Linked DNA regions of Homo sapiens. The protein of the gene in region 1 purifies or fractionates together with the protein of each later gene. This does not show direct contact. Each region holds a gene or a part of one and is shown on either strand. Other genes may lie near its edges.

What was found. The genes of interacting proteins can lie anywhere in the genome.
Region 2: the proteins of CASR (region 1) and RNF19A purify together in Homo sapiens (affinity purification with western blotting, with the first as the bait; one study listed by BioGRID). This does not show direct contact.

What each region holds. Positions count from the first base shown.
Region 1 is NC_000003.12:122,284,668-122,289,512, reverse strand, and holds part of CASR (extracellular calcium-sensing receptor isoform 2 precursor), read right to left. Parts: coding exon 4,322-4,845; 3' UTR 1-4,321. UniProt on the Homo sapiens protein: G-protein-coupled receptor that senses changes in the extracellular concentration of calcium ions and plays a key role in maintaining calcium homeostasis.
Region 2 is NC_000008.11:100,267,581-100,272,425, forward strand, and holds part of RNF19A (E3 ubiquitin-protein ligase RNF19A), read right to left. Parts: intron 2,434-4,845; coding exon 2,289-2,433; intron 1,368-2,288; coding exon 1,205-1,367; intron 1-1,204. UniProt on the Homo sapiens protein: E3 ubiquitin-protein ligase which accepts ubiquitin from E2 ubiquitin-conjugating enzymes UBE2L3 and UBE2L6 in the form of a thioester and then directly transfers the ubiquitin to targeted substrates, such as SNCAIP or CASR.

The DNA.
Region 1 (4,845 bases):
TTGGATCCTTGGAATGCACCTTTATTCCTGTGACAGGTTCTACCCTGTGCTTGTTGTTTCCCTGACCCCTGCCTCACTCCTTGCATAATAGCAAAGTCACTCAAAGTTGTCATCCAAGTCTTGATGTTTTTTTTCCATGATCTGGGCCAGGAAAACCAGCATCTCCCAGAGGCTGTGATCTCACTGTGGCAACTTCCTCCCACCTACCCTAATTCCACCCACCTTTGGGAGTATTCTTGTCTCCAGTGGACTCCTAAAATGACCACTCAGGCTCAGACAAATGAGGGCCACCTCCTCCGGTGATTAGCACCCCTTATTGATGTTCCATTATTCTTGTAGCAATAATTATTTCAAATGCAGCAGATGAGCAAAGGGAAGCTCTGGCTGGGCAGAACCAGCCCGTAGCTATGTGATTTCAGCCAGAGCAAAACGACAGACAACATTGCCTTGAAATGTGCCTTTTGGAGACAGAGGTAGGGTAGCCCCAACTTCCCCAAAATCAAAATTAATGCAATTAGACAACGTGTGACGATCATAGGGACTTTCAGGGTATTGATGTTATATGCTGATCGTCACCTCTAAATTTCCAACCTAAATTCTTAAAATCTTCTAGGACACTTTCATTTGAGTGAAAATCTTTTTAACTTTATAATTCATTTTAATTTTCAAAAGAAATGTAAGCAGTTTCCCATTGTTAACAAAACCTAAGAAATATTTTAAAAAGTAATTAAAAGGTGATCATATATTTACCTCCTGACTTCCTTTATTCAAGAGAAAAGCAAACACTAGTTTGTTGAAGCTACCAATTTCAGGTTTCTGCTACTGACAGATAATAGAATGAGACAACACGGCTGTGTATTTTCTATAACCAAAGCCAGCAAAGACTTAGAATATGAGGTTTATACTTTCCCAAGCAGATGTAGAGGAATAGAATATTAGAGGGGAAGGAGTGAGCTAGGTGAAGGGAAGAGGACCACAGTGAGAACAGGAATAGATCTCTGAGACAGGCTCTGGCTGCCAAAACTCAGGGAAGGAGATAACAATACAAATGTATTTGTTTTCTGTTGCTGCTGAAACAAATTACTATAAACTTCATGGCTTAAAACAACACAAATGTATTATCTTACAGATCTGGAGGTCCAAAGTCCTACAAGGGTGTCACTGGGCTAAAATCAAGATGTTGGCAGGGCTGCATTCCTTTCTGGATGTTTTAGGGGAGAATCGGTTTTCTGGCATTTGCCAGCTTCTAGAAGCAGCCTGCCTTCCTCAGCTCATGTCCACTTCCCTACGCAAAGGCAGTACAGGCCAGTGGTGTTTTTCTCATACTGTATTGCTCTCACACTGACTCTTCTGCTTCGTCCACATTTAAGGGCCCTTGGGATTCCACTGGACCCACCTGGATAATTTGGGACGCTCTTCCTATCTCAAGGTCAGCTGATTAGCAATCTTAATTCCACTATACTTTAATTCACCCTTGCCATGTAACAACATAGCCATAGGTTCTAGAGATGAGGATGTGGGCATCTTTGGGTGACCATTATTTGCCCACTACGAAGTCTATTCAGGTTTGGAGACATGTACCCTGTTTCTTCTCTGGTACCCTGGAAGCTTTGTTAGCCTCCATAAGCTCTGTGTACTGTCATGGGGAGACAGCAGTCAAGTAGACATGAAAGTGAGGCTGCCAGTGATTTCTGGGCCTCAGGGATGAGCATGGAGGTAGCTGCAAGAGCTAGCAGGCCCCACAGGGACCGACTGGTTAGGACAGTGAGGCATGCGTGAAAACCACCACGAAACCCATGATGGGACCAGATGAGGATACAATGCCTCAGAGCACGCCAGCGAAGGCCAGATAAGATTGCTTTCAGCAATGTCATGAGGGAGCTGCTGATGACTGAGGAGGCCCACCCCAACATTACAAAAGCCCTCCTGGAAGGGAGAAGGAACAACCTCTGAATTGATCCCCAAACATCTAAATTGGCTCAGAAAACACTGAGGTTACTGTGAAAACCCCGATTCGACTAAGATGAAGTTTCTGTCACTAGGCTGGAGGGGAATTTGAGATAGAAATTAAGTTGTTGTAGAAAAACAATGCAAGTTCATATTTCACACCCCTGATTTTGTGCTGAGTTGTGCCTGCTACGTATAAATTGGGACAGTGTTTCTGTATCTGCCTTTCTGACAACAGCATTGGGAGAGACTCCTTATTTGCAAGCACTTGGTGAAATAAAAGCTCACTGTAAACCTATGTTTTCCTCCTAAAGCCCCTTGGGTGACATGGACATTGAAGTCAAACCCTGGAGGGAGAAGTATGTCACATTCTGTTGAGGCTGTTCCCTCATAGTTATTTTGAAACCATCACATTTTCAGCATTTCTTTTAAGACCAAGTAAAATGTTAAATATAAATCCCCACTCAGCTCGGTGCCTTGCTCAGAGGCATGACTGCAGGGGGGCGCAGGCTGGGTGGGGGCCGGTGCCCTTCCTAGGTGGGGAGCAGGCACCTCACTTGGGTCATCCTGAGTCACCACCTTCTGCTCACAGTCGCGCTCCCACATGGTGCCCTCTAATGATTTCTCATTATAATCTTAACAACTATCAAGTCCACCAATTTGCCCTACAAATCACTGAAAGGCGCCCCTTTGGAAGAAAGTGGTCAGGGGAAGAAGTCACCAAGAGCTGTAAAATTTGAGGCTTCAGGAGATTTAATTGCAATGGTTTGGCCTCAGCTTAGAACCTCCTGCTAGACTGGTGATGGTCTTCCCTGGATGCTGGAGGTCCAGGCCCTGACACTGCGGAGACAGGGCATTGGGCCACCTGAGGGGCTGACCAGCTTTCTGGCTTCCTCACCATGAGCCAGTGATACTATGGCTGACCCCATGTGTTGGGCCCAGAGCTCTTGGGCTTATTACAGAGAGAGTGATTGTGATCAGTGGGCTAGGCAGTACAATCTGAATGGTTAATATGTATGTTTTGTTTTGTATTTGAAGTAAGGGAAAAAATAATTATTACAGTATCAGTAATAATATTAACTAATATTTATTGAATGCTTATTGTGTGCTAGGTACCAGGCTAAAGTACTTTATATACATTATCTCGTTTAATCCACATAAGAGCTCTGAGGGGAAAGAATGATTATTATCCTTATTTTAAAGATGAAGAAGCTGTGGCTTAGAGAGGTTAAGGTTCCCTGCCTACAGTCACTCAGCTTGCAAATGACGAAGCCATGGCTTGAACCCCGGTCTGTCTCTCTGGCTCCAGAGCCTGGGTGACCGGCAGTATTAATACCACTGCTGGAGGGAACATAGCTCTGACATTTGAGGGTGGATCTTTCTTGGAACCACGCTTTCCTACCCTAGCAGCTATTAGCAGGCCAATAATTGAGAACTTACTCTGTACAGGGATAGGGTGGATCTGGCTTCAGGAATTCTTTGGGGTAGAGATGGGAGGGACTTCTGGACCCTTGAGTCCCTGAAGGGGCTCACATAAGGCTTAGCTTATGGGAGTGAGGATAGTGGGGTGGGGAAATAGAGCTCAATAATACTGCCTTATATAAACCAGACTGACATTTTTCAGTTTATATTGTCCATGGACTATTACAACAGAAGCATTTTCCTAAGGATAAAGCTACATATAGGAATATTAATTACAGATACAGCTCATTGGTTTATGCAGTCCCTTCCTAACAATTTGAGGTGATTCTTGTGATCCTGGAATCTAAACATGGCATCAGTATCATGTCCTGGACAGAAGCAGACATATGGTATAGGAGGGGTGCAAACCTTCTGGATGTTACATAATAGCAGCAGCAGGTAGGAGACAAAATATCATATGGTTTTCATAAATAGGAGGAGATACATTCTCCTTATGTTGTGAACATTTAAAATTCAGTCTGTTGTCAAGGCATTGGGCAGGACTGGTGACATTCTGTCTTTCAGACTCTCAGCTCTAGTGGTGGCAAATTTGATGTCCCATCAGTCTGCACACTCTGGAGGGTAGTTTAAAGCCATAGTTTCATCTCTGAGCTGTTGGGTGGGATAGAACAGAGGAAGAGACATTAGATGTGGGTGAACAGCAAATCTGACCGTGGAGATCTCAATGCTTTGACAAATGCAACCACAGAAACACAAGGCTCTTCTTTTTTTTAATTTTAAAGGGAACATGGGTCAATTCACTGTCATTTAAGATGGTGTGACTAAATTCGGGGCATTTGATGTGTCTATTATCCCTTCTTCCTCAGAGGAAAGGAGTCTGGGGCGATTCCTCTTCCCTGGGACCCCAAGAAACCTCTCTGCATTCTCCCTAGCCCAGTCTTCTCCTTCCATTTTATGAATTCACTACGTTTTCTGTAACAGTGCTGCCTCCACCACTGATGACAAAGCTCTGTGAACTGGACACTACAAGTGCTGGGGACAACTCTTCAGGGTCCTCCACCTCTGGCCGCTGGTCTCCACCCACAGGTCCTTGCAGACCTGTTTCCTGGACGGTCAGATCTAAGTCCGTTTCCCCGCACTGCAGCGGGAGTAATGGCTCGTGTCGGGTCAGCGTATCGCTGCTTTTCTGGGCCTCCAGGGAGTTCTGGTGCGTAGAATTCCTGTGGGCCATGGCGTTCTTCTGAGGCTCATCAAAGCTCAGTGAGAAGGTGACCGTGCCGCTGCCAAAGATGACCTTCTGCTTGCATCTGGGCTGCTGCTGAGATCGTTGCTGCTGTGGGAGGGTCAGGGGCTGCTGCTGCTGCTCTTGCTGGGTTAGGGCCAGCGGCTGCTGCTGCTTCTGCCTCTCGGGCTGTGGGAATGGGTCTTCGCTGTTGCTCTTGCTGCTGATGGAGGAGGAGGGGGTGGATCCCGTGG
Region 2 (4,845 bases), on another chromosome or scaffold:
GCTGGTCTTGAACTCCCAGCCTCAAGTGATCCTTCTGCCTCAGCCTCCCAAAGTGCTACGATGACAGGAGTAAGCCACCATGCCCAGCTTGTTAGTTCTTTTTTTTTTTTTTTGAGATGGAGTTTTGCTCTTGTTGCCTAGGATGGAGTGCAATGGTGCAATCTCAGCTCACCGCAACCTCCACCTCCCAGGTTCAAGTGATTCTCCTGCTTCAGCCTCCCGAGTCTGGGATTACAGGCACCTGCCACCATGCCTGGCTAATTTTTTCTGTATTTTTAGTAGAGATGGGGTTTCACCATGTTGGCCAGGCTGGTCTTGAACTCCTGACCTCAGATGATCCACCAGCCTCAGCCTTCCAAAGTGCTAAGATTACAGGGGTGAGGCACCGCACCTGGCCTGTTAGTTCCCTTTTTGAAAATTGCTATCCTTTGTTCTGCTTGGGTACAAGGTTGGGATTAATTTCTTTTTATTTTTTAAAAAAAGTTTTAATTTTTTTGATCTTCTTGGATACCAAAGAAAATTTCTTTTTTTTTTCTTTTAGCTATATTCTACTGAAAGTTACTTCTCAATCCAGAGATTCTATTAATTTAGGCAACAACAGACTTCTTAGGACCTCATAAATTATCCCATTAACCCTTAACAAAAGAACTATTTGCTTAGCTAATGAAATATAATTCATCAATTAGAGGCCAGTGGTAGTCACTGGTGTTTGGACTTTCACAAGATTGTTATAATTTGCAAAATAGTGTATTTATTAAAAGCAGTAATCCAAAAAAAAAGCTTTGAACTACAGCAGAAATAATTCAAGAACTGGCTAATTATTCTTTGCCTGAGGGCATGTGTTATTTAGCTATTAACTTTCATTAAAAAGATCTCATAGACCTGACCTTACAAGGATATACCTATGAGAAAAATCTCAGGTGTGTATCCTTCAATATTTTATACTCAAAGTTTTATAATACAAACATACTAAAATTTTCAGATTCAGAACATTTTAAAGCAAGTCTGCTTTATACGTATTTATATATGCTTGCCAAACACTAAAAATTTATGAAAAAAGAGTAACTGTTTTATACTGAAGAAACTAAAGATACCCTTTGTCTAAAAAAAAAAAAAAAAAAAAACCCAAAAATCATCAATACTAAAAGAATACACCTAAAGATTTAGAATAAGATAATGGACTAACAAGAAGTATGCATTTTACCTTGCGGCCCACATACACAGGAATGCCAATAATCATTGCAGGAATAGCAATGCCAGCTATTAAAGCGATTCCGACAGGAGCACCAACCAGTGTTCCCAGTTGCCACAATATTTTCTTCTTTCGGCTCCAGGGTTTCTTCCCCCAAAAAGTACATCCTGATGGACTAACGGAAAAAATTATAATGTAAATAACTGCTGCAAAACACCACAATAACAAATTAGTGCACTATATTAAAACAATGACTATTTTTAAAAACTTCTCATAGTTAGGAGCTTTTTTCCCCTTTAAATTCTGAGTTCATTAAACTAAGGTAAGAACCACTATAAATTATATTAACAAGATATTGATATATCTTATTTTATATTATATTTTATTATTTAATCTATATTATATTAACAAGATACTGATAACTGAAATTCAGGTTAAAAATTTATCCCTAGTCTTCCATTACCCTCATACCCTTAAGTCAGTTTAATAGTAAATTAATGCAAAACATGCATATTTTTAGGCATCAATTATCTGATTATATCACAAACTCACTCTGTAGCCTAAACGATAAAATTTATGTATGGGAAAATTCAATGAAGTATAAGGTAAGAACCACTGTAAATTATATTAACAAGATACTGATAACTGAGATTCAGGTTAAAAATTTATCCCTAGTCCTCCATTATCCTCAAACCCTTAAGTCAGTTTTTTAATAGTAAACTAATGCAAAACATGCATATTTTTAGGCATCAATTATCTGATTATATCATAAACTCACTCTGTGCCTAAATGATAAAATTTATGTATGGGAAAATTAAATGAAAGTATTTATGGGTCTAGCATAATTACACAGGGTATTACATACTTACTAGCATTCTAGTTTAACAAAAACAAAAAAAGGAAATATCCATTTCCTATTTTGACTAGTTATTAATTCCAAATGACTAGCATAATAACTTGGTTTCTTTTAAATTTATTTAACTAGAATAAAACCAATCCCTTTAAGTATCTTATAAAACCCAAATTTAAGACAAGTTATTTTGTCTTACAATATAAAATTACATTTACATATAAATAGCTCCTTCTATAAGCTTACCTTAGATAATGCAAATCTGAGATTTCTTTCATACACAACCAACAAAACTCACAACCACAAACAGCACATGTCATGTGATTGCAGCTCCCATCATTCATCTTTATTATATAAGCAGCACATCGTGGACATGGCTTTATATCATCAGCTATTGGGAACACAGAGAAATCTATTAAGTACATAAAACTGGTCTAAAAATAACTTCTAGCAGTTTACCAATTGTAGCACTGTCAAAAAATCTTAAGATGTAGTTTGTTAACTTATAGCTTCAGCCTGCTGTTTTTAGTATATAAAGCATTTTTTCTTCCCTTCTAAGAAAACATACTTTACATTAAAATATCAAGTTATAAACATTTTTAAAACATAGTAGTAAAACAATGAGAACAAAGAATAAAAAAAGAATAAAAAGAGAAAGGAGAATCAAGGACAGCTCTAGGCAAATTGTGAACTACGTAAAGTTTGTCTTTGTCCTGGTCCCATAGAAGTCTTCTGAATGGTAGTTCCCGGTTCCAGAACTTTTCTAACCATCTTCCCTTAATTCAAATGTACACGTTCTGTACACTATTCCTTTAGTGAATGAACACTAACAGGAGGTGACAATTTGATATTAATCTGAGGTGCTATATCCAAAGCACTATGAATTTATTTCTTCTAATTACATCAGTTATAAGCACTATAAAAATAGCAAAACAGGTATCTTTAGAAAAGCAGCCTTTTCCCAGTATTTTACTTCACACAAAAGAGAGATGGACCTTGCAAAGAATCAGTACCCAAAATACAAGGAAGGAAGGAAGAGATTAAGGAAGGGTCATATGGCTATGAACGTTATAAACCATGGAAAACAGTTTCAGAATAAAAGCAATCATTGTTAGTTATGCTCATGACTTTTAAATTAGTTGTGTTTATCCTTTTTATTCATTTATTCACCCATTTACTCAACTGTTGTTGGTCTATGCTCCTTGTATAATAATATGGTTACAATGCACAATGGCGTCAAGTTAAAATCAAGTGTAACATAACTTTAGGAAAATTATACAACTACTTTGCATGTTGGCATCTGTTTAAATAGTAACTTGTAATTACTATTAGCCAGCTATATTTTCCAACTACTCACAGTTAAGAAAAGATATTTATAGTGCTAACCACTGAATTTAAGTATTTGTTCCAATGTCTTACATTATAAGCATTAAGCTATATTCCATTCTTTCTACAAGTTTTATGGTCAAACTTTACCTGTGCTTTATCAGTTAATTCAGGTTTCCTTAGCACTTCTTCTAGGACCAAAGATGCTTTTTTTTTTTTTTTAACTTAAGATCTGGTCAATGCTCACAATTAGTATTTGCTTTAATGATTCAAGCAATTTTGAGCAAACTGATACTCTAAGCAGCCAGACCAGGACAATTGATAATTACTAGAATATAAAAATTAAAAATATCCATGTCATGATTTAAATGATCAAAAGAACATGAAGTCTGCATTTAACAATTTTAAACATTGGGGTATGACTAAAAAAAGCTGGCTTTTATGCCTGATACAACACGTGGTATACTAAATTAAGGAAATGCTAATCCTATCTGCGTAAGCAGCATGTTAATCGATAAACTTTCTCATTCCAGAGTATGCTCAAGTAGTAGGTATCTCAACAAGACAGGGGAGTAAAAAGACTCAAGCTTTGGTAATGATGCATGCAATCTTTGGAACAAACTGAAAGGTAACATCCCCATTTATTCTTATGGTTCTAAAAACACAAAACAGCCTTTTAATATGCTAAAATCACACATGAGAATTAATACCACAAGCAATGTATTTTTGATAGGTCTCTATATACTTGTACCCATATCTTTCACTCTCTGTATACTTATTTATCTATGAAAGGCTGTTTAGTTTGCTTTGTGTCTTTCCTCAAAGCAACAAATTAGGAAAAACTTACTGTGCACATTATAGGATGATATATTTCTCTCCAAATACCCTCATGATGCAAAAATCCTAAATGAAATTGTTTATGGTTAGTTGATCCCCCATTCCCCAAGAATCAATTAAGCCACCGTTCCCCGATATGAAAAAGCTTCCCATTTCTATTTACAGTGTTTGGCTAAGCTTTCATCTTCTGTATCTTTTTGTTTACTGCTAAAATATGGGCCATTGTCATATTAAGAAAAAACAACAGGTTACAAAACACCATGTCCTCAAATGTTAACAATGATAATCTCTTAGGGTGGTAGCGGTAAGGGGACAGAGGCAGGAGTGGAGAGCCAATTAAATATTTTATTTGCATAAAATGGGAAAACTACATTAACAAAAATGAAAAATATGTGGTTCATTTAAAATTTAACTCCAAGTGCCTAAACCTCCTAGTAGCTATAAAAAAGAGCCTCAAGTGGATGCAGTGCTGTCACAATTTAAACACATATATAAACATTATACTATAAATATTGTATTATTTTATAAACACAAATATTAATGTACTTTATGTAACTAAGCACACATCTTCAGTGACTGGGGAAAAAAAACAACTAATTATTATACCAATTAATATTAAAAGTAAAACTAGTTTTTTAGA